Linked DNA regions of Homo sapiens. The protein of the gene in region 1 purifies or fractionates together with the protein of each later gene. This does not show direct contact. Each region holds a gene or a part of one and is shown on either strand. Other genes may lie near its edges. The genes, in order: CHCHD4, CCDC127, ENSA and TOR1AIP1.

Region 1 (4,816 bases):
TTGCATTTATCTGAATCATTAACTCTTTGATCTATTGGTGTTCTTACATTTAAAGATACACAGCAACTTAAATATGAATTATCCAAACCCCTTGTAGTAAAGCATAATCTCCACCCACTTCCAATTGCTTATACGGTGCCAATTCCTTATCACCAATTTGTTTTTCCAGTGATAAGTGGAAAAGGATGGAACCTTTTGCCTAACCCAAGTCGAGTTGGGCAGACAGTTCGAGAATCTCTGCTGTAAGTTACCATGGCTGGAAGAACCCAGCCCTGAAAATCCAGCACCATTATGTAACACTCATCCATTCCTTTCTGCTTTCTAGTAAATGTTGACTTCCTGGCTAGATTGTAGCTTCATGGGCAGTACCATGAATGAATCACTCTATGTCCCTAGGGCTTGGAACTGTAGATTCCATGAATGCATCAAATAAATGGGGTACATGACATGGTCACAAAACAGTAACACCTTGATTGTGACCAAAATTTTAACAAAAGAAATATCGTTTTTAAATGTGCAAAACTCTGTTAAAAGAAGTCGTTAGGGTCTGTCATGCCTTCCATGCTTGGCCAGCTCCAGGTTCTTAGCTCCTAATCAAGCAAGGTTTAAAAAAGCTCTGGATATAGAAAGCAGTTCTCTACCTCCATACACCTCCCAACCACAAATCCTTGCATTTTAACCATGCCTTCAAGCTTTAACATGGTGGCGCCTCATTCTCCAGTGTGGCAGGCAGCTTCCTGTTACTCGTATTCTTGTGTCCCTCTCCTTGAGTGTGGGCTGTGTCTCACTTCTAACAAACAAATAGACTATGGTAAAGTTATGGAATGTCCGTTTTGAGATTAGGTGATGAAAAGGCTCTGGCATCCATCTTGCTCTCTCGCTTGCTCTGATGGAAGCCACCTCCCATGTTGTGAGCTGACCCTTTAAGGCAAAGGCCATGTGGCAAGGAACTGAAGGAGGTGTCTGGCCAACAGCCAGTAAGGCACTGAGGCCCTCAATCCACAGCCCACAAGATTCAACCCACTGAACCCTCCCAGAAACCACTTCGAGCGATCTTGAAAGGCCTGTCCCACCTTGAGATGACTACAAGTATCATAGCCTCATGAGACACTGAGCCAGAGAACCCAGGTAAGCCATGCCCAGATTCCTCGTTTCAAGCTATTAAGTTTTAAGGCAATTTTTTACATAAATAACTTAACACATTTGAGACAAATGAGGCATTACTATGCCACAGCCTGAAAACTGTCTAGCAGTTACCTTAGGCAAGTTAATCTATTTTCAAACAGGAAGAGCCTTCCCCACCTCATAGACTAACTGTAATGTCTGTGTGAAGGCATCTGCTCACATATAAAATAAGTAAGCTTCCTTTGAACTCAACACAGAAAATTTTAACGGACTCAAATTGGTTTACCAATATCTTTCAAGAGGAATTTCAATTGAATTGTTCATAATTTATACTTTTTTATATAGAAAACATTTTTAACTAGTGAAAACAAAGGACACATTCAAAATCAGGTAGAAATCATGTTTCCTTTTAATTGAATACTTAATTCACAACGTTTCCTCTCTTGCTGCTACTCTGGTAATAATTAGGTCCCCACCTCTCAAGAACATTGCACCTGACTAGACTGAGAGCCAGTGTGAACATGGGCCCCAAACCAGGGCTTTCGGAATAACAAGGAACAGCCAAGCCAGCCTCTCCCTTCACTTAGAAAGGGATTATGAATGGAAGGGTCCAAATCTTCATCATCCAAACACAGAAAACCAGGAGCTCAACACCTACATGGAAACCAAAATGTATCAGGAATAAAGTACAGTACCCCTTCACATACTCAAGGTCAAGATGGGTTTGCAGAAATCATATCTGACCATCTGGCCTCTGCTAGTAGATATGGCCCCATCCCAGCATTTTTAAGAGATGTTTTTGTTGTATTATTTCCCCAAGGGGTATAAAATCTACCAAAAGGAATATAATGAATCAGAATAAATCAGCTCACTCACAAGAAACGTTCTTGGGTAATGGTTTTTAGTTGCTGAGCTTATTCAGCACATTATTTAAAAGTGGCAAAATTCAGGGCAATCTGAGAATTCAAAAGTGGCGGCCACAGGTTTGGGTAGGACACACATACATACAACCCCCATTTTTTTCAGTGTATATGTCAAGATGTCAAGACCTCAAGACCTCTGATCATCAAAATAAGTTATTTTGTATATTATAATGCACAGGACAACAGAAGGAAACTTTCTTGGAAGGTGATGACAAGGCCTTTTGCAAAAGGTCCACTCCAAAAGGACTGGTGCCCAGTGCCTTGTGGCCTTCATTAACTTGATCCCTCCTCTTCTTTGGTTGCAGTGGCCTCAATGGGAGCTGTTTCTTCTGCTTGTTCTGCTGGCTTCTTCTCTCTTTCCTCTTCCTCATCCTCATCCTCTTGGGGATAGAGGTCTGGGTATTTCTGCATGCATTCCTGCATGGCCCGGAACTGGTCTACACAGTCTGACCCCTTGATCTCCTCCGTGCTATAGTGGAAGCAGGAAAAGGCTGACTTAAACTGTTCTCCACAGGGACCGCTGGCCATTCCCCCAAGGCATGGGCAGTTCCAGTTAATGTTTCCATTTGGCAGTATCAATCCTAGAACAGGAAGATAGAGAGATGTTCTCTAAAGTTTCAGAAAATACAAAACTAGTCCAGTCCTCACAGGCTACTGAGGGGGTGCAGAACAGGAACTATTGTTGCCTATGGACCCACACCTCGATTTGGATTAGGTTTAAAGCCTAGCACATATCCAGCATTCCTTGGCCCACCTGGGAGAGAAGCCACCAATGACATATTTCTCCACGTGTGACACTAATTTATTCTAAGCCACCTCTCAGTGCTCTGAGGCTGTGCTCCAAGAATTAAATACCGGGACCCATTTAGCCCAAAGAAGAGGAGATCACTTGGATGGTTAGTGAGGAGCTTTTTGAAAGCCCAAACACTTTAAGGAACTGAGGTATTGATCTCCTCTTTCCAATCCCCCTCCCCATATGGATGATCAGGACCACCCCACCCCCATGCTCCCTGCCCCCCTGAGCCCCTCTTGCCCTGCAGCTGCTCTCAGAAGCTCAGCATAGCCTGGGGACTGGTGAAAAGGAGGAGGTTGCTCCTTATGTACTGACGAAGAAAGATGTCCAAGACATGCTGCACAATGAGAAGCTGGTGGCATACCATTAGTGCGAGTGCATTCTTGTAAAAATCAACCAAACCTGTTAAACTGCACATATGTGTTGGGCAGGAAGCAAGGTTATAGATGGGTTTTCATTTTCACTATATTAATAGGCTTCTTACTTTTGACTTTTATACCTTTTCTTATCATTGAACTTTATTCACATCTAAATAGTATTTCTTGGTTTTCCAAAATGCTCTCAAAACGATGGCTTCATTTTCAGCTTTGTGAAGACATGATTCATACAGAAGTTTCTTACATGATTCTTATTAAGAGACTGAAAGTACTTTCTAAGAGAGCCTCTAAAAGGTCCTGTGAAATTACACATGATTCTTCACTCCAGGGCAGTACCCAAGCCTGGCACTCTGCACTAACGTCCAAAGTCCTAGGCGAAACCCCGCCTGCCTTCAATTCCAGCTTGGGAAGCTCCACTGATCAATGGATCTGCTGTAGCTATTCCTGTTCCTTACTTGTAAAATGGGGACAGCAAGGACGATGCCAACTAGTGCTGCCCCCTTAGCAGGCGCAGACCCCCAGGACCATCAGCAGTTGCAGATCAAGTTCTCCTGCATTAAGCTACGTTTGGTAACTCACATAAGCCTTCTGACAACCTTCTGCAGTGGGTGCTACTAACCCCAGTTTACTCATGCAGTCTCTGGGGTTCATGGTCCAAGTGAGGACTGCAGACTGGGCTGACAGGATTCCCAGAGTCCATGCCCCTTCCCCTACATCTCACCACTTCTTGAAATGGACCTCAGTGCTGGAGAAACATTTGCAAATGCTGCCCCCTGGAGCTTCAAATCTGCTCACAAACCTGCACAACCAGTTTCCAAAAGAGGTAATACTGACATTTAAAAATTACAACCCAGTACAAATTGACCAGGTGGTTGATTAAAAAAAATCATAACAAAAAATGTATAACCTAGGTCTCCAGGAGTCCTTGTTTCATTGTTTCTTAGGGGCAGGTAAGCTGGAATGAGATACCTCCTCACAAAGCACATGGTGCCAATTTGCATTTCAGGGACACAATATAAATCCACACAGAGGGTACCTTTGGCATGTTACATAAAGCTCAGATGCAGTGTGTTGTCAAACATGCAGTCTAAGGCCTGAAGTTCCAGTCTCTGGCTGAGTCAGTCTCCGCCCCCGCCCAGGCCCCCAGTTTTCTCATTGGATCAGATGATCTTTAAGGCCCTCTTGATGTTTTGATTCTAGGAAAATTAATTCTGCCACCTTTTTTCTTGGTACTCTTAGCTATTCCAAGCACCATCTCAGCTGCAGAGCTGGATGCTGGAAGGCAGGTAGATGGCATAAAATGGTGGCTTACTTGGTCCACTTACTAATTTTGCAGTTTAAGAGCTTGAAACTTGGGTCCCAGAGTTCTTTGCGTTTTATAGGCTTCTTTTTACAAAGTATTCACTATAAGGGGCTGTAAAGCCAAATGCATCATATGGTATACCTACTATCCAAGCAGATACATTGCAAGTGACAGAAGCAGGTAAAAAAAAACAACAGGGACAGGAAAGAATGGTGGGATCTGGAGGGGGCAGACCAGTCTAAAGGCAGATACGTACTGCTTTTAATAACACTGTGAGGCAAACAAAACAAGGCCC
Region 2 (8,428 bases), on another chromosome or scaffold:
AAAGCTGGGTAGAGGGTACACGGGCTCTCTGCATTACTGATGACAACTGCATGTGATTTACATGACCCCAAAATAAAATATTTAATTAAAAGAAACTGAGTTGGGCCCAGTGAACTCAACCAGTCCCTTTCAGCTCTAAAACTATGTTTTCTGGGTCAGGGGAGGAAACAGGAGGTACAGGAACACTAGAGGGGAGAAAGCACGGAGAGATGGGAAAAGCACGGAGAGAGAGATGGGGAAAGGGCAATCAAGAAGACTGAGAGAAAAGGGGGGAAGCAGAATGACAGAGGAGGTGTGAAGAGAGAGAAGCCCTCTGGAGTGCTGAAATACTGAATATTCTCCCCTGGGAGCTACTCAGGGTAAGAATTTCTCCAGGGACTGCTCTTTCGGGCAAGCACAATTACACACATTTCTATGTTATGTTAAGTAAAAATCTAGTAAATGGGCTGGGCACGGTGGCTCACACCTGTAACCCCAGCACTTTGGGAGGCCGAGGCGGGCAGATCATGAGGTCAGGAGATCGAGACCATCCTGGCCAATGTGGTGAAACCCCGTCTCTACTAAAAATACAAAAATTAGCTGGACGTGGTGAGGGGCGCCTGTAATCCCAGCTACTCGGGAGGCTGAGGCAGGAGAATCACTAGAACCAGGGAGTCAGAGGTTGCAGCAAGCCGAGATCGCGCCACTGCACTCCAGCCTGGCGACAGGGCAAGACTCCGTCTCGAAAAAAAAAAAAAATTCTAGTAAATGAAGCGAGTGATCAGGACAAAACTAGCCTCTCATCAATAAATCAACCAATAGCGCTTATCAAGTATTCATATGTCTGCCTCTTCTTCTAGACTACACTAGGGGCTGGTTAACGCTCCTATGTGCAACAGAACCTCAAACACATCGTAACACACCTTTGGAGAATCCTTACAAGAACACCAACTTAACAGTTCTCTCTGACCACACTACCTCAGCAAAAAACCAGGAAGAAAAAAATATTCTTCAACCCTTTTCAGGGACAGAAAGCATCATTTCAAAAGTCCAAGAAGGGAAGGTAAGAATTTCAAAAGTGAAAGTTATCATGAAAGGCTATAAAAGCTGGAGATGAGTCTGAAAAACAAATGGAAAATGAGTCACTTCAGGGCCTCTCCCAGCCTCAAAGCCAATTAATTATTACATTAGTCAGAGTAATTTTAAGCCTTCCAATCCACTCACCCTAGCCACAGGCAACAGTAGCCTCTCCAAGTGTTAAGGGTTTTTTTTCCCAAGCCTGCAGGCGGATGAGCTTTTTACATGGCAGCCCCTTAGGATTGGATGTGGACCTGCCCTGTCTTTCACCAAGAAGCAAGCACTGCGCAGATCACTGAATCATAAAAACCACCTGCTCTTACCAGCCTCCTCTTCCTCTACAGCAAAACTTCTGACCTGAGACATGGAAGCAGATAAAAAGCCACTACACAAAATGTATCGCTACAACTAGAGGGCAGTTTTGCCTTTCTTCCATTCAATTATTCAGTTTCTCATGTTCCTAAGTGCCAGCCCAGAACCATGGAATGTGAAGAAACACAAAACTCACTCCTCTGCATCAGTGAATTGATTGTGTGGTGGGGATGTAAGTCTGCATATGACCGGCAGGTCCCCAAAGTGGTGCCAAGTCAATCTAAACTAGAGAGAATTTTTCTGGCCAGGCCAAGCAGAGATTTCATGGATGAAGTCTCCCAAAGACTGATTTCCTAAACATTAAACATCACTGGTTTTCCAAAACTGGTTTTCTTTTTTTTTTTTTTTAACCCTGTTGCTCGGGCTGGAGGGCAAGTGGTGCCATCTCCACTCACTGCAGCCTCGACCTCCCAGGCTCCACTGATCTTCCCACCTCAGCCTCCTGAGTAGCTGGGACTACAGGTGTGCACCGTCACGACTTGCTAATTTTTGTATTTTTTTGTAGAGACGGGGTTTTGCTGTGTTGCTCAGGCTGGTCACTCGATCTGCCCACCTGGGCCTCGCAGAGTGCTGGGGTTACAGGTATGAGCCACCACGCCCAGCCCACTGGTTTCCTTTACACCCGTTTTGTTCCCCAGCAGTCCTTATGAGGGCACCTGAAATAAGGAACCTCCTCCCCGACTTGAGAGCAGCAAAGCCTTCAGAGGGAACTAAGTTATTAAAACCCACCCCACACAAAATGCTTCTAAACGCCTTGGCTGACTTAATCCTTGCAGTGTGCTGAGGTTAAGTATGATTATCCATCTCCTGTGAACAGGAAGACTGAGGCTCAGAGCTTAAGTGATTTGCCCACGGTTCACTGCAGGGGATAAAACTCGGCTGTCCCTGGCAGGTCCCAAAGTCACGGCCTTCAGGCTCCCACACCATGCTGCCTCCCTCACCGGGGCTCCACACTCTCAGCCTGGAAAACACGAATTTTAAGAAAACCATGACTTACGAAAAGCAGCCAATCCCAGCATTGGAACCAACAGGGCATAATTCCACCTGCTTCCATCACCACCATCCGCCCTGGAATTAGGCCGGATATTCCAATTTGGGGGATCATTTAGGTTATTCATGGAGATATACCTTGAAGTAAAGAATAAAAACGTTAACTACTTTTATTCAAGAAATTTTTCTTCAGTTTTAACTATGTGCTTGCTGCACAGCACTGAGGCCCTACGGGATTCAAAGAAGAAAAAAACTAGACCAGAGCCGGGCATGGTGGCGGGCACCTGTAGTCCCAGCTACTCGGGAGGCTGAGGCAGGAGAATCGCTTGAACCTGGGAGGTGGAGGTTGCAGTGAGTCGAGGTCGCGCCACTGCACTCCAGCCTGGTGACAGAACGAGACTCCGTCCCCCCCAAAAAAAAAGAAAAAGAAAAAGGAAAAAAAAAACAAGAACTTAAGATGAAAGCGACTCACAATCTGGTTGGGGAAAGTGGAGAAAACAGACATGTCTTAAGCATCTGAAGTGCAGGTAGAATCAGGTAAGTTCTCTGGTACAAATATGTTTAAATGTATGGCTGCTGCGATGGTTAATTTTGTTTGTCAACTTGACGGCATCATGAGGTGCTCAGATACATGGTTAAGCATTATTTCTGGGCGTGTCTGTAAGGGTGTTTTTGGATGAGATTAGCAATTGAACCTTTAAACCAATTCCTCACGTCTCCCTTCTATTTGTTGTGTCTCTGGAGAACCCTCATACAGTTGTATCAAAGATACAGAATCAACTCGATAAAAGTGGGCTCACACCGGACACTTTCATATGAGCTAGGGTTTGAAGAGTGAGCAGCATTTTGACAGGCAGAGAAAGAAGGAAAGGGTCTTCTGATCAGAAGGAAGACTGTGAGGAAGGCAGGGAGGGGTGATGTGGGGAAGGTGCAAACAGTGCTAGAAGCTTCTGAGGCCTCCTCGTGGTGGTGATGAATGCAGAGATTACAGAGTTCTCTGCTTCGGGCTCAGCATGCACCCTCCATAGCTAGGCTGGGGGCTAACGTTAGTAAGAATTTACTGATTTACTGAGTACCTACACGAAGTTTCACATTTTCACAAAGTAGAGTCACTTTAAGTTTGTTTACATGTGACCTCCACAAACACACACAATTACAAAATAGTTTAGTTAATCAAGGGATGTATAATAAACAAGAGGTCGGAGGCCCCGGGCCGCTCCCGCCCACCTCCGCGGACGAGCGCCCCCCTCCGACCCCATTCCCTGCGGTCTGGGCGTTCAGGCCCTTCGGTCTGGGCGATCCCGGAGAACCACCCACGGGGCTTTAAAAATGTTGGTGCCCACCACCTCCCCGGAACAGGGCCCGCTCTACCTCGGTCGGGGAGCGCGGGACCTCAGCGTTCCCTTAACGCCACCGTCCGCGGGTCCGCTTTGCGCAGGCGCGGCGCCCCCACTCAGTACCCGCTCCGGGCGTGGCATGGTGCGCAGGCGCGATGTCCCCCACTGCAGCCCCGCTCGACTCCGGCGTGGTGCGCAGGCGCGGTATCCCCCCTCCCCCGCCAGCTCGACCCCGGTGTGGTGCGCAGGCGCAGTCTGCGCAGGGACTGGCGGGACTGCGCGGCGGCAACAGCAGACATGTCGGGGGTCCGGGGCCTGTCGCGGCTGCTGAGCGCTCGGCGCCTGGCGCTGGCCAAGGCGGTGAGTCCGTGCCGCGGACCGGGGCGGGGCAGGCGGGGGCCGAGGCGGCGGTAGGAGCGGGACGGTCCCCAGCGGGTCCGAGCGGAGCGGGCGCCGGGTCCCTGCGCCCTCTGTCCCGGGATCGGGAAGGGGCTGAGAGAGCCCTGGGCCGGTGCGAGGGGAAGCCGCGGGGCGGACTCGGGGACCCGGGGAGCTCGGTCCTTAGTAGATAGTCCGCGTCCGGGTGAAGGTCACAACCCCGCGGGCTTGCTGGGCGTCCCCTCCGCCGCCTTGGTCCGGGCCTGGGGTCCTGGGACCCCGCGGGCTGAGGTAGCCCCTCGCCTCAGTGCCTGGCAGGTGGACTCGGGGAGGAGTCGTGTCTGCCCAAGGTCACCCGGGCGGATAGCGGCCGGTGGCCGCCCTGGCTGGGCTGGGCCTCTGCCGCCCTCTGTGCGGGTTGTCCTGAGGAGCAGCCCGCAGCCCGTGGGTGGGGCCGGCGGGGCGGGTGAGACCGCCCGGGTGGGTGCGAGGAGTGGCCGGGCTCGGCCCGGTGGGCGTCCGGTGGGAAGCGTGGCGCGCCCGAGCTTAGGCTTGCAGTTCGCCTTTCCAGAAAGCGCAAATCTGTCCATGTCCACTTCGAGACCTTGTAAGTTAAGGGCTTCTACTTTGGGTCGTGTTTGGTGGTCCTTATGCCACCAAAAATGTGCCAGTGTTTAAAAGCAGCTGTGCCAGTTTTTAAAACTCAGGCGGAGAGCTCAGCGCACTGACCGGGCGAGGACGCCGGGACCTGTGCTTGCCTGTGCGCTGAGTGCCTCTAGGGCCGGGCTCGGCTTAGTCCAGGATGGTGGTCAGGGTTATACTTCCCTGAGCCCTTGCTCTCTGAGTGTCTGAATGTGCCCTCTACGATTGCATCTTAAGAATCGGCCTTCTAGGGTTTTATTTAATCAAGCTAAATTGGATAGGTTTAGTTGTTTGGTTCTTTTAAATGAACTTACCCACCCACCTCCTTAATTACAAAGTAATTTTAAATTGCAGAATAAAAATCTCAATAGGAACCAAGGCATTCAGCAATATTGATTTGAATTATGCCTGTAATTGTGCAATTTTCTCCTTTTTGAAATACTTATTAAAAATCTCGTTGAGTTAAATGTGAGGATTAGTCATACAGCCATCCTGCCAACATCAGAAAGCGTGTAAACCGTTCTAGTGTGTTGCTGTGGTTGGTACTGACTGAGCAGAGACCCCTGCCGCATCTTGGGCTTTTAAGAGCTGCTAGGAGGGCGTCCACAAGCAGGAAGGAAAGCCCATGGTCAGTGGGGCTTTTTAGGGGAAATGGTAGCTTGTGATTGGAGAAAAGCTAGAGCTAGTGCCTTTGTCCTCAACCCAGATGGTGCCCGGTGTTCCTTCTGCAGACTAAGACCCTGCCAGCGGCGGAGGCACCTCAGACGGGATGGCAAGATAGCAAAATTGAACCAAAATTTAGTCTTGGGTTTTGTAAAAGTCTTTTTATCTTGATGAAGTTAGCTTTTCCTACAGAAATTCTGCCTGCAAGCAGCATATTTATCGGCATTTCAGATAGGCTTTTTTTCCTGAAGAATTGGAGTTTACGAAGGAACAGCATAATCAAAAAATTAGCAGAAAAAAGAAAGAAATTCGTGATAGCCAACTGAGAAATGTGTTTGGAAAATAGATGCTGAGGATAATTTCAGTAAAGTCCAGAGAGAATTTTTTAACCTCATTTTGGCCAGTTCTGTGGTGTTTTGATCATTCTGTATTTACAACTGCTTTCAAGTGACGAACTTATCAGACTTATTTTGCTTTTGGTTTCTTTTTATGGCCCAGTGCACTGACACAGCTTGCAAACTGTTCGAAAGCAGTTTAATCAGAGGAAAAAGAAAACCAAGAAACTTCAATAGTTACTGGTTAACTGCTTACTTCAGGTGAAGTTTTTCAAATCCCTTAACATGAACATCCAATATATTGTTCTAGGACAAATTGATTTCTTTTCTTTGAATGGATTGTTCTGAATATGTTTAATGGTGTTCTAGAAATACATTATTTAGGCCATTATAGTAGTAAACCTTTGCTTTGCTTCTTGGGATAATTGTAACAACAATGGCATTCCATTCTGCATTCCTCATGATGTTTTTCCTGATTTATTTGAAAAATTGTGACTTGTTTTTTGATATGAAACCTGGATATTAATATTAGTTGGGAGTCTCAGAGATTTTTCCCAAGGGTCTTTAGATAGGGGGGCAAGTCCAGGATCCAGAGCCAGGCCGGCCGACTTGAATCCTCTCTGAGCTCCGTCTTTCCGTGGGGTTAGTGAGGATTCTGTGGGTAATGTTTGAAACCTTTGGTGATGCTCTTGAGAACCAGGGCTCACAGCCTATGCACAGTAACCATGTGTGAACTGAATTTTTTTTTTTTTTTGAGACAGAGTCTCACTCTGTCACCCAGGCTGGAGTGCAGTGGCGCAATCTCGGCTCACTGCAAGCTCTGCCTCCCGAGTTCACGCCATTCTCCTGCCTCAGCCTCCTGAGTAGCTGGGACTACAGGCACCTGCCATCATGCCCGGCTAATTTTTTTGTGTTTTTAGTAGAGACGGGGTTTCACCATGTTAGCCAGAATGGTCTCCATCTCCTGACCTCGTGATCCGCCCGCCTCGGTCTCCCAAAGGGCTGGGATTACAGGTGTGAGCCACCACGCCCGGCCGAACTGTATTTTAAGTATCCCTGTTTTTAAAATAATAAACACTAAAATTCTAGTGAGAATAATTACACGCAGTTGTAAAAGAATCAATGAGTATACCCTCCCTCACCCAGTTCATTTTCCATGAAAGCAATTCCTGTTTCTGATACTGACTCCTGGCATTTGTAATACCTCTGTTTCTTTAGCGGATATGCAGGTGCATTTTTATCAGTTTTAGACTTCTTGCCTAGAGAGGGGATTTAGTTCACTTAAACTACCCTGCTTCCGCTTCTTCCTGATACAGTCGTGCGTTTTTAGGTTCTTCGTTGGCTGCTTTTGTGATTGTGTAGGTTGTACATGCAGATTAGTTTCTTGCTCGTGATTTATAGGTGCGTTGTATTAGATGAGGACCCCTTACTTTGCTAGATTTCGGATATGAATGTCTCTGCACTTCTTACTTTTCCCCTCCACCTCCTAATTCAGTCATCTGAAATTCTGTATTGTTAAGCAAGGTCTAAGTATTCCTTTTAGTTATATGTTCCCCATTTTTTTTCTTGAGGAAATGTTTGATAGTTTCTCCTAAAAAAATTAACAATTGGCACAAAAGACTAGTTTTGTGTCAAAACTAGTTTTGAGTTTTATCTAAAGACTGAAATTGGCTTAAAGTTGGGCTTTCCAAATTCAAAAATCTGCCCCAGATTAGATTTAGATTGAGAGGGTTAGTGTCCTTTTCGCCAGGGGGATGGCGTGATAATTTGTTCAAGATTGTGTTATAGTAGCTGCCCCTTTTAAGCCAGCTCTGTGTGTGTGTGGTGGGGGGTGGGCAGTGGGTCTTCCACATCAACATCCTAGAAAGAACGAATAAACATTGAGTGATCTCACTGTTTCTACTTACATTTGGTATAATATACTGTTCTTACTGGTGCTATTACTATGTTAATAGGGCACTTTACAACATTTTCAAGAACATTTGTATTAAAATTATTTCAAAGACTTCTTTCTTAAAATATGATTTTACCATGCAAAAATTTTACTAAGGTAGAAGAATATTTGTTCTTTCTCATTCATTTTCTGAAAAAAGAAAAAAGCTGAATTAGCTTATACCAATAAAAACAGAGACTAGAAATTGGAGAAATGAAGAATAATTTTTTATCCCACATAATAAGTAATTTCTGAATTGCAAGTATTTCTAAATACTTGAAGACATTCCTCACATCCCCTCTTCTGATTGCATTTATTTCCTAAAGCTTTTTTTTCTTTTCTTTTTTTTTTTTTTGGAGACGTTGTCTCTCTCTGTTGCCGAGGCCGGAGTGCAGTGGCACAGTCTAGGCTCACTGCAGCCTCTGCCTTCTGGGTTCAAGCGATTCTCCTGCCTCAGCCTCCCAAGTAGCTGGGATTACAGGTGCCCGCCACGACGCCCAGCTAATTGTTAGTAGAGATGGGGTTTTGCCATGTTGGCCAGACTGGTCTTGAACTCCTGACTTCAGGTGATCCACCCACCTTGGCCTCCCCAAATGCTGGGATTACAGGCATGAGCCACCGTGCCCAGCCCCTAAAACTATTCTTGATGATATTTCTGAGACTATTCAGTGGTCTTCTCAAATGTAGCCAGCAGAATGGAAAACGTATCCCCTAAATGGCTG
Region 3 (9,501 bases), on another chromosome or scaffold:
GTGGCACGATCTCGGCTCACTGCAAGCTCCGCCTCCCGGGTTCACGCCATTCTCCTGCTTCAGCCTCCCGAGTAGCTGGGACTACAGGCGCCCGCCACCACACCCGGCTAAGTGTTTGTATTATTAATAGAGACGGGGTTTCACTATGGTCTCGATCTCCTGACCTCGTGCTCCGCCCGCCTCGGCCTCCCAAAGTGCTGGGATTACAGGCGTGAGCCACTGCGCCTGGCCAAATTTTTTTTTTAAAAAACGATAATATAATCCCTCAGTCAGCTTTAGGTACCTTTGGGAACTAAAAATCTGATCAGGAGCTACATGGCTATGAAAGTAGACTCTCTCTTGGTAAGGAGGACCACTCTGAACAAGAAAAATACATTTGCTGCAGGAGTATAATTAATGGCTGGTGCTCACTTCAAGGGTATGAAGAAACTGATTCATTTCAAGTTGAGGATTTATTTCTGTAGGAGAGATGGTTTGATCTTCTTCTGAAATGATGCATCCCAAAATTTATCTCTAATGCTTAAAAAGTGCACAATCCTAAAACCTCCAACATTCAAACAGGCAAATGCCTGGGGGCAGTCTGCATTTCAGTTTCTAACATCTTTCCCTCATTTCCCCACACACCCAAATGCTCCAATTTAGGCCTTAATTTCCTACATGGGAAATCAGGAGGGAATTGATACCACATCAGGGATTTACATTAATTTGACTTGCTCTTTTCAAATTTCAAATTCGCCTCTACTTCTGTTCAACAACAAAACCTCCAGAAAAGGATCCAGTAGAACCTCTACAGACTTCATTCGAAGAACCTCCTTTAGCTCCAAAGAAAGAGGGTAAGAGACTATGCCCCATACCCCTTTCTGGAGTCTCTTCATGAGGAAGTCGGAGCCTCCAGGCTTTTGTCCTAGGCTTGGGTATTTGGCCTTTAGCTTTGCCTCTTCAGCTCTCTCAGGCAGAATACCTTCTTTCTCCTGCGTGTCCTGGAGAAAACAAATGAGCCAAATAAAATTAAAGACTGAGAAACAACAGCTTCTCACATCTGATAACAACTATACTATCAACTTCTCCTGGAAATCCACCCACTTGTAAATACGCTATCTCTACTCTGCTGTTAAAGCTAGACCTTTGTTAAAATCCCTAAAGCTCAAGATGACTATTGTGAGAGAAAAAGACAAGCTGCTTCTCACACTTCACCCAAGGAACCAGCCAGGGACCTGTGCGTATTGGGCTAAAGGTAATACTAAACACAATACTTTAATCACAGAGTGGGCCATATCACTCAGCACAAATGCTAAGAAAGACAAAGAGAAAAAAGCAGGGCTTCTGGTGATAGAGGATGAGTAGCAGGGTTCCCTAGGCTATCCTACATGTCACATGAGAAATTAAAAAAAAAATAGTTTGGGGCTGGGAGCAGTGACTCATGCCTGTAATCCCAGCACTTTGGGAGGCTGAGGCAGGTGCATCACTTGAGCTCATGAATTCACTACCCGCCTGGGCAATATGTTGAAACCCCGTCTCTACAACAACAAAAAATAGTTTGCTAAATGTTTCCTCCTTATTTTTTTCTTTCTTTTTTAAAATTGCTACACGACAAAGCAGTTCCTTCTTTATTCAAGGTCTAAGCCACCTGTTAGGTCTCCCTGTGGAGGCGGCTAGCTATGTGGCCTTCTCCAAAGATCTCCACCTGAGTAATGGCACAGCCTTGCTTCAACATTTCCACAAATATTATGGTAGCAAGCTGATAAACAGAGAGGAAAATGATACTGTTTTTAACCTCAGGAAAACAAAGATACAGTAGGCTCACTAGTATTTACCCACCAGTTTTCATCAAAAAAATCAATACCTACCCTGGTGGTGCAGGGACTCTCACTACTGTAGTCAATCTCTTTTTTTTTTTTTTGTGGTCCCTGCTGCCCTTTAGTGACTTTTTGAAAAGATATGAAGTCAACGTATGACTCTTTTTAGTGGAATTATATTCCTTTCTCTTGGAAATTACGCATAGATATAACACCAAGTGTATTTAATGAGTACCTGAACCCAGTACTAAATTTTAAAAGTCAAATACAAACCCCAATAAGGGGTTTATTTGGCGTTAGTGTTTCCATCACGGAATCGCAGGTGCACTAAGTCCCTGCCTTGGAAGTCTAGGGGAAGAGAGAAGTGTCTTTCTCACGACCCTGTCGGCGTCTTTTCCAAGTTTAATTACCATGATTCTGTTTGGAACTCTAGCCCTCTTCAATATTGCTGGGTCCTCACTGAAGGTGAGCAATAGACCATCCTTAGCTACTAAAATAGGTCTCTTGAGAAAGTTGCCGCCTTAAACTAGCCATTATAATAACTACACTTCTCCCCTCCCCCAATACTGGTTTTTTTTTAAACGTCTTTACCTCGACCCCTATCTTTGCGGATTGAGGCTGCGGGCCCCAGCCCGGTTGCTGGGTCACTTACCTCTACAAACCAATAACACACATCACACCCAAGACCACCAGCCATCCCCTTTCCATTCACCGTCTTTCCAACCACCCGCCCCACGTCCATGCTCGGCCAATTATAGCACAGCGTCCAAGGTTTGAGCGGTAGGCCTATTGGCCAATCAGGAAGAGTACAGTACTGAGTGACAAACGACCCAACTAACCAGCGCCAAAGCAGCATGTCGTGTTGAAGCTCACCCAGCGTGACGCAAAAAGTGGCCAACCCCTGCGGAGCCTGAGACCATGGCGACCAATCCGCACTGGTGGGAGACCGTCTCCCGCCCCATCACGGTCTCCCCAGCTCGCCCGCCCGCACCCCTTCCACTTCACCTGCTTCTCCTCGCCGGTCTCCTCCGCAGGGTTCTCTTCTTCTTGTTTCTGGGACATGGCGGGACCGGGACTGTGGAGTGTAAGGGGCCCGGGAAGGCAACCGGAGAAGGGAAGGGGGAGGGGAAACGGGGACAACCTGCGCTGCTGCTTCGGCTCCTGTCACTAGGGTTGCTCAGTCAAAATGGCGGCCCTTGCCCGTGACGTTGCGACCGCCCCTTCCTATGAGAGCCAGTGGGAGTGAGGTAGATAGGGCAATGACGTAACGATCTACCAATAGTCGCCGTCTAAAGGTGGGCTCTATAGAGGCGACCGGCAAGCTGGAACACCAACCTGGAAAGAGAGTGAGCCACAAGGACCAATTGGAAGCCTGTGGGGGATATCGGGGGCGGGGCTGCTGGCTGTGGTACTTTTGCAGCTTTGGTGGGCTCCGGCTTCCTTCACTCCAGCCCACCGCGTCCGAGAGACTTAGCAGGGCGTCAAACTGGAGAGCGGAAGGATGGAACCTTTTATTCTCAGGTGGAGAGGATTAAGCTTTGCGGTGTTAGCAGAAAATGATCGAGCTCCAGAAAATGATTTGGAGGTCAGATTCGATTTTAAAGTAGTACTAACAGGCCGGGCGCGGTGCCTCACGCCTGTAATCCTAGCACTTTGGGAGGCCGAGGTGGGCGGATCACCTGAGGTTAGGAGTTCGAGACCAGCCTGACCAACATGGTGAAACCCCGTCTCTACTAAAAATACAAATATTAGCCGGGCGTGGTGGCGGGCGTTTGTAATCCCAATTACTTGGGAGGCTGAGGCAGGAGAATCGCTTGAACCCTGCAGGCGGAGGTTGCAGTGAGCCGAAATCGCGCCACTGCACTCCAGCCTGGGTGACAGGACGAGACTTTGTCGCGAAAAATAAAATAAAACGGTACCAATGGTATTACGATGTGTCACTTGGCCTGTGGAAGAGAGAGACTGAGTCTCAACCCGAGCTGTCTTGCAAAACACTAATGGCTTACGTTCCGTAGTTTCACTCTTATGTGTAGTTTTTATATTCCATCAGGGTGATCCCTTGGGGACTACGCTCCTTGAAACAAGGAGGACAGTGTAAGTATGTGGTAAACATTTGGTAAATACGGTTAATACTAGTTAACCTATCCAGAATTACAGTTTAACATTTCCTGGGCGTCTGTCTGTATGTGGATGGTACTGTGTTAGTTGGGGGGGGTACGTGTATAGTAAGGCAGTCTCTGCCCTTAGAAAGCTTACAGGCCTGGCTGGGCGCGGTGACTCACGCCTGTAATGCCAGCACTCTGGGAGGCGTAGGCGGGCGAATCACTTGAGGTCAGGAGTTCGAAACCAGCCTGGCCAACATGGTGAAACCCTGTCTCTACTAGAAATACAAAACAAGGCTGGGCACGGTGGCCCACGCATGTAATCCCAGCACCTTGGGAGGCCGATGAGGGTGGATCATGATGTCAGGCGATAGAAACCATCCTGGTCAACATGGAGAAACCCCGTCTCTACTAAAAATACAAAAATTAGCCAGGCGTGGTGGCGTGCACCTGTAGTCCCAGCTACTCAGGAGCCTGAGGCAGGAGAATCGCTTTTACCTGGGAGGCGGAGGTTGCAGTGAACCGAGATCGCATCTCGCCACTGAACTCCAGCCTGGGTGACAGTGAGAGTCCGTCTCAAAAAAAAAAAAAAAAAAAGAGTGGCAGATAAGAAGTGCTCTTTATGGAGATAATTTGGTGGTAATGAATAAAAAGACTCAGAATTCCAAGCAGAAAACTACCAGAGATGAACAGTCTAGCCGAGTCCTCTGCAAACGTTAGGTGGGAGATAATTAGGATTTAACCTAGAAACGTAGTAGTTAAGAATAGAAAATAGTGAACCTAACCAAGAGAGTCTGTGACAATGGAATCCACTAGACTAGCAGCTGACTGAATAGAGAATGAGAAGACTGTGTGCCTCAAGGTGATTATTTATAGAAACAATAAATTCAAGAAGAGGAGTCAATTTGGGAATGGAGCTGAAAAGCAGAGAGAAAATAAGGCATTCAGTTTTGAAAACATGGACTTTTTTTTTTTTTTTTTTTTTTTTTTGAGACGGAGTCTCGCTCTGTCACCCAGGCTGTAGTGCAGTAGCACAATCTCAGTTCCCTACAACCTCTGCCTCGCGGGTTAAAGTGATTCTCCTGCCTCAGCCTCCCGACTACAGGTGTGCGCCACCATGCCCGGCTGATTTTTGTATTTTTAGTAGAGACAGGGTTTCGCCATGTTGGCCAGGCTGGTCTCAAACTCCTGAACTCAGGTGACCTGCCTGCCTCGGCCTCCCAAATGCTGGGATTACGGGCGTGAACCACCGTGCCCGGCCTGAAAACATGGACTTTATTAAAAGCGAATGAACCATTTGGTGGAGACATCCAGGCAATGAAGACTTAGGATAAATGACCTCTAAGATCTCCATATCTGAAATTTAAGGGTTCTAGGAAATGTAAGTGTGGGAGTTTGGGAGAAAAGTAGACGCTGAAGATGTACAAATTTTGGACTTTTTCACATAAATGTAAGTAAAGTTGTGGAAGTTGATGGGATCACAAAGGAGAATGTAGGAAAAAAAGAGGTTCCAGTCAGGTGCGGTGGCTTACACCTGTAATCCCAACACTTTGAATGGTCAAGGTGAGAGGATCGCCTGAAGCCAGGAGTTTGAGGTTACAGTGAGCTATGATCATGCCATTGCACTCCAGCCTAGGCAACAGAGTGAACCCGTCTCTTAAAAAAAAAAAAAAAAAAAAAACTCCCAAGACAGAAACGTGGGGAAAAGTTGGCAAAAGACATACAAATGATCAGAGTGGTAGGGAGAGAATTAGAAGAGAGAAGAGCCATGGAAAGCAAATGAAGAAAGGGAGGGCAGGTTGTCAATGTTAAATGTGATACAGAAATTAAAGATGGAGGTGATAGAGGTCAATCGCAAGACGTTAAGGAGCGAGGAGGTGGTACCAATATTGAACAGTGGTAGCAATATTTAACAGTAAAGCAAGGAAAGGGCAGAGCTGTAGCAGCAGATTTTCTTTTGGGGAATAGGCAAGACTCAAGCATGTTTTTAGAAAAGGCGAATGAGGCTGGATGTGGTGGCTCACGCCTGTAACCCCAGCACTTTGGGATTCATCTAAAAGATGAATAATTCTTTTGGGAAATACTTTCTGATCAAGCTATTTCTAATTCCAAGCTCTGCTTAAGAATAATGTGTAAAAACTATGATTGCTAAAGGAACGATTGATTTAAATTATACATTTGTCCTTTTTTTTGAGACTGAGTTTAATTCTTGTTGCCCAGGCTGGAGTGCAATGATGTGATATCTCGGCTCACTGCAACCTCCCCCTCCCAGGTTCAAGTGATTCTCCTGCCTCAGCTGTGGGGAAAAGAAAGAGAGATCAGACTGTTACTGTGTCTGTGTAGAAAGAAGTAGATATAAGAGACTCCATTTTGTTCATCTTGTGAGTCGATGGCGCACGATTGCGGTGTTTCTGTCTCCGTGGAGGTGCTTTTCTTTGCATCTCCGATGGGTTCATTGTAGAACTTCAAATGTCTAGTGGGTATCCAAACAGGAAGCTGATTTTCTCCTGGTGAAACACAAGCAAAACCTCTCCCCCATGTTACCACCTTCCCTATTTCCCATGTCTTATTTTTATTATCTTTCTACCAAATCAGTTTTCCTTCATGTGGGCTGTTCTTTTTACCAGTAAGATGTTGTTCTGCAGAAGTAGTAGTCTGATTTCTATAAATGTTTAAAAAATATAAAGTGCTAGATTAAGTTGCATCTGAGGCGTGGTACATTCCTTACTGTCTCCCCCTTCTTTTTATTTAACTAATTGAGTTTTGAGTGTTCTATTAGTTCTTTCAACTATGGCCTGTCCTTGGGAATTATAAGGAATTCCTGTTGTATGTGAAATTTTCCACTGACTTAAGAATTTTTGGAAAGCTTTACTACAGTATCCTGCCCCATTGTCAGTTTTAATTTTTTCTGGAACTCTCATTACAGCAAAACAAGGTAATAAATGTTTTTTAACATGGGAAGTACTTTCTCCTGTCTGGCAGGTTGCCCATATGAAATGTGAATAAGTATCAACTGTTACATGAACATATAATAATCTTCCAAATGAAGGTACATGCGTGACATCCATTTGCCGTAATGCATTAGGACACAGACCCCTGGGATTAACTCCTGCCTCTTGAGTGGGCAGGTGTAGGACTTGACACTGGGTGCAATGTCGTACAATATCTTTTGCCTGTTTCCATGTGACATCAAATTTGTTTTTTAATCCTGCTGCATTTACATGAGTCAAAGCATGAAATTTTTGTGCTTTTATGAATGCAGATGATACCAGTAAGTCAGCTGGTTCATTTGCTTTAGTCAAAGGCCCTGGTAAATTAGTGTGTGCTCGAATATGAGTAATATAAAATGGGAAATTTCTTTTTCTTACAGTTTGTTGTAATAAATTGAATAGCTGGTTTAACTGATCATCCATGCTATATTTAATTAGAGCTGTCTTTACATCCCTTGTAGCCTGTACTACATATGCAGAATCTGATACAATATTGATAGGTTGATCAAAATCTTGTAACACTGTAATGACTGCAACCAACTCTGCCCTTCGAGCCAATTGATATTGAGTTTTGATTACTTGCTCTTTTGGCCCTGTGTAAGCCGCTTTTCCATTGCTGGAACCATCAGTAAACACTGTCAGAGCATTTTCTAAAGGTTCACGTCTGGTAATTTTAGGTAGAATCCAAGTAGTTAATTTTAAAAACTGGAAGATTTTTGTTTTTGGGTAATGATGATCAATAATTCCCACAAAATTAGCAAGACCAATCTGCCATGCACCAGAATTGATAAAGGCTTGTCTAACTTGTTCCTTGGTTCAAGGGACAACTATTTTGTCTGGGTCATTTACACACAATTTTATTATTTGTAATCTTGCCTGACCAATTAATGTAGCTATTTGATCCAAGTACAATGTAAAAGTCTTAATTGTACTGTGAGGAAGGAATGACCACTCCACAAGATCAGTATTTTGAACAGTGATGCCTGTTGGAGAATGTGCAGTAGCAAAAACCAAAAGTTGGAGTGGGGCTAAGGGATCTATTCTATTTATTTGCACTGACTGAATTTTTTGTTCCACTAATTTAATTTCTTTTATTGCCTCTGGGGTTAATATTCTCTTACTATTTAAGTCTGAGTCTCCTCTTAAGATAGAGAACCAATTTTCGAAGCATCAAAAGCCCATTTAAATTTGGTACCAGAAACTGAGGCAATCGCAGGAGTGACTGATGGCCTCGCAAATCTTAACCCTGTCACTTGGGTTAAGACCATCGGAAGTACTACTATTATAAATTTCGTATTAATCCTTGTGTGCCTGTTTTATCTGTTGTTAGTCTGCAGGTGTACCCAGCAGCTCCGAAGAGACAGCGACCATCGAGAACAAGCCATGATGATGATGGTGGTTTGTCGAAAAGGAAATGGGGAAATGTGGGGAAAAGAGAGATCAGACTGTTACTGTGTCTGTGTAGAAAGAAGTAGACATAAGAGACTCCATTTTGTTCTGTACTAAGAAAAATTATTCTGCCTTGAGATGCTGTTAATCTGTAACCCTACCCCCAACCCTGTGCTCCCTGAAACACGTGCTGTGTCAACTCAGGGTTAAATGGATTAAGGGCTGTGCAGGATGTGCTTTGTTAAACAAATGCTTGAAGGCAGCATGCTTGTTAAGAGTCATCATCACTCCCTAATCTCAAGTACCCAGAGACAATACGCTGCGGAAGGCCGCAGGGACCTCTGCCTAGGAAAGCCAGGTATTGTCCAAGGTTTCTCCCCATGTGATAGTCTGAAATATGCTGGCCGGGAAAGACCTGACCGTCCCCCAGCCCAACACCCGTAAAGGGTCTGTGCTGAGGAGGATTAGTAAAAGAGGAAGGAAGGCCTCTTTGCAGTTGAGATAAGAGGAAGGCATCTGTCTCCTGCTCGTCCCTGGGCAATGGGATGTCTCGGTGTAAAACCCGATTGTATGTTCCATCTACTGAGATGGGGAAAACCGCCTTAGGGCTGGATGTGGGACATGCTGGCAGCAATACTGCTCTTTAAGGCATTGAGATGTTTATGTGTATGCACATCAAAAGCACAGCACTTTTTTCTTTACCTTGTTTATGATGCGGAGACGTTTGTTCACATGTTTTCCTGCTGACCTTCTCTCCACTATTACCCTATTGTCCTGCCACATCCCCCTCTCCGAGAAACGCCCAATAATGATCAATAAATACTGAGGGAACTCAGAGACTGGTGCCGGTGCGGGTCCACTGTATGCTGAGCGCCACTTCCCTAAGCCCACTTTTCTTTCTCTATACTTTGTCTCTGTGTCTCCTTCTTTTCTTAAGTCTCTCATTCCACCTGACAAGAAATGCCCACAAGTGTGGAGGGGCAGGCCACCCCTTCACTCAGCCTCCTGAGTAGCTGGGATTGCAGGTGCGCGCCACCATGTCTGGCTAATTTTTGTGTTTTTAGTAGAGGCGGGGTTTCACCCTGTTGGCCAGGTTGGTCTTGAACTCCTGACCTCAGGTGATCCACCCATCTGGGCCTCCCAAAGTTCTGAGATTACAGGCATGAGTCACCGTGCCCAGCCCATTTATCCTTGATATAGCTAAATTACTGAGCATTAGGAAGG
Region 4 (8,522 bases), on another chromosome or scaffold:
AAATTAAGTTTCAAATTAAGTTACTGTGGTTTTCCTGGGCCACTGTTGTCAGCCAGTTACAATGTGCTCCATTTCTCTAGACCCTAGCTCCTATTCTGAAGCTGGTATCTTACTTAAATTTTCCTTTCTAGGCCAGGCTCCGCGGCTCATGCCTGTAATCCCAGCACTTTGGGAGGCCAAGGCAGGTGGATCACCTGAGGTCAGGAGTTCAAGACCAGCCTGGCCAACATGGTGAAACTCCGTCTCTACTAAAAATACAAAAAATTAGCCGGGCATGGTGGTGTGAACCTGTAATCCCAGCTACTCGGGAGGCTGAGGCAGAAGAATCACTTGAACATGGGAGGCGGAGGTTGCAGTGAGCCGAGATTGCGCCACTGCACTCCAGCCTGGGCAAGAGTGAGATTGTCTCAAAAATAAAAAAAATAAAAAATAAAAAAAATAAAAAATAAATTTTCCCTTCTAAAAGGATCACAGTAACATGAATAGCAAATAGAACATTTTAGGCAGCAATTATCTAAAACGTGGATGCTCTTGAGCATGCATTCTCAATGGGGGTGAAAATTGGTTCATTGGGGACAAAAAAAAATTCTATTTTGTATAAAGCAAAAAACATTTACAGTCCATAAACAGATACATAGTATATATCTGGTGTTGAAATATCATGGGGAAGGGGTGACTAAGAAAAAAATCTAAAAAAGTTCTTCAGGGAGGTGATAAAGAAAAGGTTAAGAAGCCAGGTGTAGTGACTTATGCCTGTAATCCCAGCTACTTAGGAGGCTTAGGCAGGAGGACTGCTTGAGGCCAAGAGTTCAAAAACAGCCTGGGCAATATAGCGAGATCCCATGTCTACTTAAAAAAAAAAAAAAGAAAAGCTGCTGTGGAGATTCTTTTGCTAAGTCAGGAATATCTAACTTAACTGTATTTTTAAAAACCCTAAGTGCCGAGATAAAATGGAAAGTTACGGCTATTCCACTTCTAACCAATGTACTTGCAAATGGCTCCAGTTCTTTGATTTTTGTTTCTCCTAGCCAGAGTTGCTACAATTGTTCAAGGAAAATACTTGGATTTCTTTTTTTAAAGATGATAAATCATTAAGTTTATAACACATAGAGAGTATAAACCAAGAAAGTAAATTTATTTAAATTACTAAAATAGCTTTTAAAGTCATTTACAGATCAGCTGCTATAATTATTTTTCCTGAAAGACATAGGTAACATATTACTTTTAAATTACTTGGGTCAATGAAACATTTAATAAAAACATTTGTTTCTCTATATAATACGTATGTATAAAATAAGCCTTTTCAAAAACTCTGGTTTTCATAATCCTCTATAAATCAGATGATCTGACTTCTAAGAGGAACAAATTACAGTAAGGGGTATACATTTATGAATACTGGTAGTACTAGAGGAAAGACGTTAAACCACTCTACTACCACTTGTGGAACTCTCAAAGGGTAAATGACAAAGCCAATGACTGACTCTAAAAACAATATTTACATTTAATGGTTTGTAGACAATAAAAAAACAAGGTGGATAGATCTAGAATTGTAACATTTTAAGAAAACCATAGCATTTGACAGATGAGAAAGCTCAATTATAGATGCAAAGTTATAACTAAACTACTATAGTAGTAAAGAAATACATTTCACACCCTTCATATAAATTCACTATCTTGGCTTGAGGCACTCCATAAAATGTATCACGTGCATAGTAAATCTTTATATTTGCTATGGCGTTGCACTAGAGGACTTGGACTGCAACAAGTGGATGCGCGGAAAATGAAATCTTCTTCAATAGCCCAGGACAGCTGGTTAACAAATGGTTTGTCAATTCCTGAAACTCATTTCTTAATTCAAAACAAAAGCTTCAGGGTGTGTCCAAAATAAACTGTTACGAATTGACCTACTTTTTTTTTTTTGAGACGGAGTTTCATTTTTGTTGCCCAGACTGGAGGGCAATAAGCATGGTCTCGGCTTACTGCAACCTCCGCCTCCCGGGTTCAAGCAATTCTCCTGCCTCAGCCTCCCAAGTAGCTGGGATTTCAGGCATGCACCACCACGCCCAGCTAATTTTTGTATTTTTAGTAGAGACGGGGTTTCACCATGTTGGCCAGGCTGGTCTTGAACTTCTGACCTCAGGTGATCCACCTGCCTTGGCCTGACCTACTCTTAAGACTCAAGTGAACAAATATATTAAATTTTGCAATATACATGAAGAATCCTTGGGACAGCCAAGAATTTTTCTTCAAGGAAGGAAAAAGGAGATGTAAAAAACAAATCCCAACGGAATCCACCAAGATTAACAGTTCATATACCTATGTTTGACTAAACTACATCTCAGTGGATTACTGTAACATTTCCTCCCTTCAGCTTCCCCATTAATTTTCCTTCCTTGCCTTGTTCTTTCCATTTTCCAAAAAACAAAAGAAAAAAATTCCAAACACACACCTAGATGACCTTTCATTACTTATGTTCCTATAGGCAGAAGCTAAGGAACTCACACCTAAATGGTATAAAAGGGAACATAATGGGAAAATCCCTGGTTACATTTAGGGAGCAATCTTACTAATAACTCAGGAAACTTAGTGAGAAATCTAAGTTAAAAAATCAGGAAGGTTCATAAGAAAGGACACAAATCCCTCTCACTGGTCATACCATAACTGTAATAACTCAGCCCAGAATCAAAACAGATTCTCTAAGGAACTGCATATAATCTGCACTCCTAAGATACCTTTAACAGAGCTCTCAATGGAAACTGAAATGATTCTCTCATATCACAGATAATTAGGTTGAATGAATGATTTATATGTTCCATGTTTATGTAAGCACTTAACTTCTTTAAAAAGAAACTAGTTCTTTCAAAAAGAGCTCTGAATTCTGTCTCTGGTTAGAAAGTGTGAACAATTCTCAGAACTTGGGACATGATTTTTCTTCTCTCTCACTTCTTATAAGCAGATGCCCCTTTTCAGGGCATTTTCAGGTTGCACAGGCAGAACTAAGTGAGAAATACGGCTCCAGAGGCCATTCAGTTTGTCTGGGTCCATATGATTGTAGGAGTTGGGTGTGTTAGAATTGGTGAACTTGACTTTAAGAAAATCTCTTACTTTTTCTTCAACTTCCTTTAGGCCTAGACTTGTTCCAAGTGTCTCTTCCTCCAATAAGACAGTCAGGACTAAGGCTACATCTTTGAAGGCCGCGTTTTCATGGTCACAATATTTGTAGAAGATCAAAGTAGAGCCTGCGGGAAATGACTCAAAGCGGTGTACCACAGCTGCATTCTGGCCATTCTTAAATCCATTGCTCAGTTCTTGGTCTACCTCTAGTTTGACAGTATCACTGTCTTGAGTAGCTTTATCTGTCCCATCAATCCGGATGGCACGGACACTACGAAAAGAAGAATAGGCATCAGCAATTTGTTCACTCAGACACCTAAGTGCTTCTTCAGCATCTCGGGCAGCAGTGAGCAGTAAGATAGCAGGCTGAGACCGAGGATGGGAGCTATTAAGATGTTTTTCCAGGAATGTTTGGCTCCTTTTCCACAGCTTCTCATCTTGACCTTGGTACTTATTCTTAAGTTGATTCATCTGGTTCTGGAACTCTTGAACAGCAGTGGTTTCTACCTCAGGAGTACTAAAGAACCAAAAACTCCCAGAGGCAAGAGCAGCTATCAGAGGAAGTAGCCACCACCGGTTCCTCTTGACAAAAGATGCATTTTGGGGTTGTCCAGTCACTTCTACTCAGACAAAAAAGAAATGACAGATATAAATACCACTTTCTTAGATTCAGGGGCAAGTGACTTTTAAAATCAATATCAGTCTTTATAAACATTAGGTAAAAGAGGAAGGACTTTAAAGAAGAAAGCTGATAATTTTCTTAATAAAATAATTTATCACATTCTCAAGAAAATCTTACATGCATAGGCTTTGAATTATGTGTACAAATATGCATATGTCTCTTCAATATAAAAATAAGTCTTTGAGGAAAAAAGTTTTTAAACATATGAAATGGCATAAACAAGTCAGAAAAATAATAGTTTATAAAGCGAAGTTATTATTTTCACTGCTAATAGTTGGGAGAATAGACTATTAAAATACAATTTATAAAATATTTTTTTAATTTAGTAACTCAGCATTCACATGGCTAATTATTCAAGGTGAAATATTTCTGAAGTACATAAAGGGATAAAGAAAAGGATGCAGGCTGGAAGTGGTGGCTCATGCCTGTAGTCCCAGCACTTTGGGAGGCCGAGGAGGGAGGATCACGAGGTCAGGAGATCGAGACTGTGAAACCCCGTCTCTACTGAAAATACAAAAAACTAGCTGGGTGTGGTGGCACACACCTGTAGTCCAGCTACTTGGGAGGCTGAGGCAGGAGAATCACTTGAACACGGGAGGCGGAGGTTGCAGTGAGCCGAGATCACGCCACTGCACTCCAGCCTGGGTGACAGAGAGAGATTCCATCTCAAAAAAAAAAAAAAAAAAAAAGAAAAGGATGCAATATAAATGAACATCTTCTACGTGTTATAATAGCTAGCTGTCCCTTTAGATTAATTTCACTGATGCCTTTTGTGGTATGCAAGTTAACACTGGTAAAATTTAGTTTGTGACTCATCCCTAGTTACTATTGGCAATAATAATAGGATTAATTTATATTTATCTAGTGCTTTTCGGTTTATAAAGTACTTTCTCATATTCTACTTCATTTATTCAGTTGATAGTAACAATAATACTTTTACATCTTTTACTTATTGACTGTTTCAGGCTATTAATTTTAGTAGGGACCTTTTAGAGCAGCAATTCTCAAGGCGTGGTCTGTGGGGTACCTCAAGACCCTATTTTGTGGGGAGGGGGGTCCATGAAGTTAAAGCTATTCTTCTAACACTAAGATGTTATTTGACTTTCACCTTGTGTTGACATTTGCACTGATGACGCAAAAGCTATGGTGAGAAAAACTTCTGATGCCTTAGCATGAGTTACAGGGCAGTGGCACCAAACTGTACGAGTGTAGTCATTGTTATTTTTCACTGCCATGCATTCAAGATTTAACAAAGGGACATTCTTTTACTTAAGAATGTCCTTTATGAAGCAGTTAATTATTTATCTTATTAAATCTGAATCCTTGAGTACATATGTCAATATTCTTTCTGAACAAATGGAAGGTATGCACAAAGCACTTCTGCTGCATCATACAGTACCATGGTTGTCTCAAGGAAAAGAATTTTGTGCAAATGAATTACAAGGCGAATTAGCACATTTTTCATGGAATACTATTTTTTACTTGAAAGAACAAGTAACAAACTACAGTCAGACTTGTGTATTTGGCAGATATTTGCTTTCAAGTGAAAATTAGGATTTTAGAATCCTAAATCTGCCACCATGAGCTTGACAACTCCCAATATTGTACTTTAACACTTTCTTTTTTTTTTCTGAGATGGAGTCTCGCTCTGTGGCCCAGGATGACATGAAGTGGTGCGATCTTGGCTCACTGCAACCTCTGCCTCCCAGGTTCAAGTGATTCTCCTGCCTCAGCCTCCTAAGTAGCTGGGATTACAGGTGCGTGCCACCATTCCCAGCTAATGTTTTTGTATTTCTAGTAGAGACAGGGTTTTGCCATGTTGGCCAGGCTGGTCTTGAACTCCTGACCTCAGGTGATCCATCCGCCTGGGCCTCCCAAAATGTTGGGATTACAGGCATGGGCCACGAACCCCACCCTTTAACACTTTTTTAAAGTCTTGAGATTGGCAGTGATGTTAACAAATGTGATATTTTTTATTACATTCCTAATGTGTCAATGTTTGGAAAATCTGCATTCCTCAGTGAACCAATGTTTTCCAAATGACCAGTGCATGATACTCCATTCAAAGTATAAGAAAGACCAATGACTTTTAATGTAATAGAGTACTAAAAGCTCAGTAAGATGGTTTTAGATATCCTATTTCAAGTAACATTTAAGAAACTACCACTTGTTGAGTTTTGGAGAGTTCAAAAAAGAATAGCCACAATTATCTGAAGAGGCTATTAAAATTTTTCATATCTGTATAAAAGCTGGATTTTTTGTAGATACTTCAACAAAAATAATATATTGTAACAGACTGCATACAGAAGCATATATGATAATCCAAATCCATTTTTTAAAGCTAGGCATTAAAGAGATTAGAAAAAATGCAAAGCAATCTGATCTGTTACTCTTCTTGCTAAATTATTTTAAAATAAATTAATACATATTTTAAAAAATGTTTCAACTTTAATTTCCTGGTACATATGGATAGACATAACCCATATTTTCAACAAAAAGCTCTTTGAGGTTCTTAATAACTTTACTAGTGTAAAGCGGTACCAAGAACAAAAAATTTCAGAATCATCATTAATCTATTTTCTTTTTTTTTTTTTTTTGAGACAGAGTCTCGCTCTGTTGCCAGGCTGGAGTGCAGTGGCACAATCTCGGCTCACTGCAACCTCCGCTTCCTGGGTTCAAGTGATTCTCCTGCCTCAGCCTCCTGAGTAGGTGGGACAACAGGCGTGTGCCACCACGCCCAGCTAATTTTTGTATTTTTAGTAGAGATGGGGTTTCACCATGTTGGCCAGGATGGTTTCGATCTCTTGATCTCATGATCCGCCTGCCTTGGCCTCCCAAAGTGCTGAGATTACAGGCATGAGCCACCACGCTCAGCCCATTAAGTTATTTTCTTAGTACTCTTTCAGGACAATAAGACTTGGAGAACTAAAGAAACTTGCCACAAGGCTGTAAAGGAGGTAAGTGGTCCAATCTAGTTCAAATACAGGTTTGCAGACTCCGAAAGCCATTGTAATCCCATAAAGTCATGCTCTGGCTAACTTTCTTTCAATTCAGCATGGTTTTCTCAGTTAACAGTATTAGTAGCTTTACTTATTTTAGCTATTATTTTTGGTCTTATAGACAGTTAAGTGAAGAGCAATACCAGATGTTGTCTCATAAAGTTTGTCTATAAAGAATTTCACTGCTAGTAGAATATATACTTTTTCCTCTCAAGTGCTTAAAATGTGATTCTTCAAATAGCATCGAGTCATACTGCTGTCAAAAAACATTTTTAAACAATTATGGAATACCAATTTTACAGAAATATTTAATAAAAACTGAATACATAAACTTACGTCGGCTGGAGGTTGATGGTGACTGGTTTCCAAGCTCTGATTTCAGAATGCTGTCATCTAATGGTGAGAGTAATAAAATAAGACTATCAACTTATGCTTCATAATTTGAGTATTTATTTCTAGTAGACAAAGAAGATACAAATTCCACCAGGAAAAAAAGAAGACAGAGATCAGCCAGAAGCAGAAGAAAAAGTAGAATATCTGAGTGCCGATTAGACTGAGAGCTCCTTGAAACACATGACCTATTTCTTTCATAGCTTTTCACAGCATATGGTGGGGTCTAGTACAAAGCACACAATAATTAGTTTTGAGAGAAAGTTTGGAAGTATTTGACCCATTAAGTATCTAATGGGATTGGTGAAACTTCCGGGATAAAAAGGACAAAGAAACTAAGCACACCATAATAAAATGAAACATATTATACCATCTGAAAAACTGCCATATATTGAACTCTTGCCTGGTGAAGATGCTGTAAAGAGGGGGAAAATAAGGACAAAATGTGGATTACAGACTACTGAGCTGTCTGGATAAGGTGTTTTAATATAAAAATCTTAATCCTCACTATTTTCTACCTCAAACTGATTCAGTATTTCCTCTGGGGATTCTGACCATTTCAAATACTAGTAGTATTTTAAAATCACATTTAAAAACTTCTCATCATTTCTGTTAATAGACAAGTAATAAAGTAATTCTGTTTTAGGCTTGTGGTTAAACAATAGAGCTCAAAAATAATTTTCTCTCAACTCTGTCAAATTTCTACTTTCATCTAAATCTATTTAGAAAATAAATTAAGCCGGGCACAGTGGTTCATGCCTGTAATTCCGACAAATCAAGAGGCTGAGGTGACAGGACAGCTTGAGCACAGGAGTTTAAGGCCAGCCTGGGCAACATTGTGAGACCCCATCTCTAAAAAAAAAAAAAAAAATTAAAAACAAGAAAAGAAATTAAAAATGATCCTAACCCTTCCCTTTCCCTTCCATCTTTCTTAGCATACCAGCAGGTTTTAAAATCTAAGAGAGGAAATGGAAGGACAGGCTTCAGAAGGTGGAGAGGCTGAGTTATCTCATTTGTATGACCTATATTACCAGTATTGCCGTCTATCACTTGCCTGGAGTTTTATAACTTTTGTATATATAAATGAACTTCCTGGTGGATCTTCTTAGCGTTATATCAACAACTTTCATTTGAGAAACACTGGAATAACTGGAGGAATAATATTAGCCCTGCTAAGATTCAGAAATAGCCTTATTTTTGATCATATGACAAAAAACTCCATAATGATGTAGTAAGACAAAATGACAGCAACTGTAAGAGGAATACTGTTTTTCAATTACTAGTTTAGCTTAGGATATTTCATTATTTAGAAGCTTCTAAGTTAGGTTATCGAAGTT

What was found.
Region 2: the proteins of CHCHD4 (region 1) and CCDC127 purify together in Homo sapiens (co-immunoprecipitation; 2 studies listed by BioGRID and IntAct, with this or other methods). This does not show direct contact.
Region 3: the proteins of CHCHD4 (region 1) and ENSA purify together in Homo sapiens (co-immunoprecipitation; 2 studies listed by BioGRID and IntAct, with this or other methods). This does not show direct contact.
Region 4: the proteins of CHCHD4 (region 1) and TOR1AIP1 purify together in Homo sapiens (co-immunoprecipitation; 3 studies listed by BioGRID and IntAct, with this or other methods). This does not show direct contact.

The regions. Positions count from the first base shown.
Region 1 is NC_000003.12:14,110,566-14,115,381, forward strand, and holds the end of CHCHD4 (mitochondrial intermembrane space import and assembly protein 40), read right to left. Parts: intron 2,630-4,816; coding exon 2,322-2,629; 3' UTR 1,512-2,321; downstream 1-1,511.
Region 2 is NC_000005.10:214,304-222,731, forward strand, and holds the start of CCDC127 (coiled-coil domain-containing protein 127), read right to left. Parts: upstream 3,851-8,428; 5' UTR 3,790-3,850; intron 2,557-3,789; 5' UTR 2,547-2,556; coding exon 2,426-2,546; intron 1-2,425. Other genes in the region: SDHA (succinate dehydrogenase [ubiquinone] flavoprotein subunit, mitochondrial), read left to right, coding at 4,053-4,115.
Region 3 is NC_000001.11:150,626,613-150,636,113, forward strand, and holds the start of ENSA (alpha-endosulfine), read right to left. Parts: upstream 3,001-9,501; 5' UTR 2,859-3,000; coding exon 2,802-2,858; intron 2,528-2,801; exon of another isoform or gene 2,494-2,527; coding exon of another isoform or gene 2,449-2,493; intron 981-2,448; coding exon 855-980; coding exon of another isoform or gene 720-854; exon of another isoform or gene 434-719; intron 1-433. UniProt on the Homo sapiens protein: Protein phosphatase inhibitor that specifically inhibits protein phosphatase 2A (PP2A) during mitosis.
Region 4 is NC_000001.11:179,912,664-179,921,185, reverse strand, and holds the end of TOR1AIP1 (torsin-1A-interacting protein 1), read right to left. Parts: intron 7,189-8,522; coding exon 7,132-7,188; intron 3,735-7,131; coding exon 2,947-3,734; 3' UTR 1,110-2,946; downstream 1-1,109. UniProt on the Homo sapiens protein: Required for nuclear membrane integrity. Induces TOR1A and TOR1B ATPase activity and is required for their location on the nuclear membrane. Binds to A- and B-type lamins. Possible role in membrane attachment and assembly of the nuclear lamina.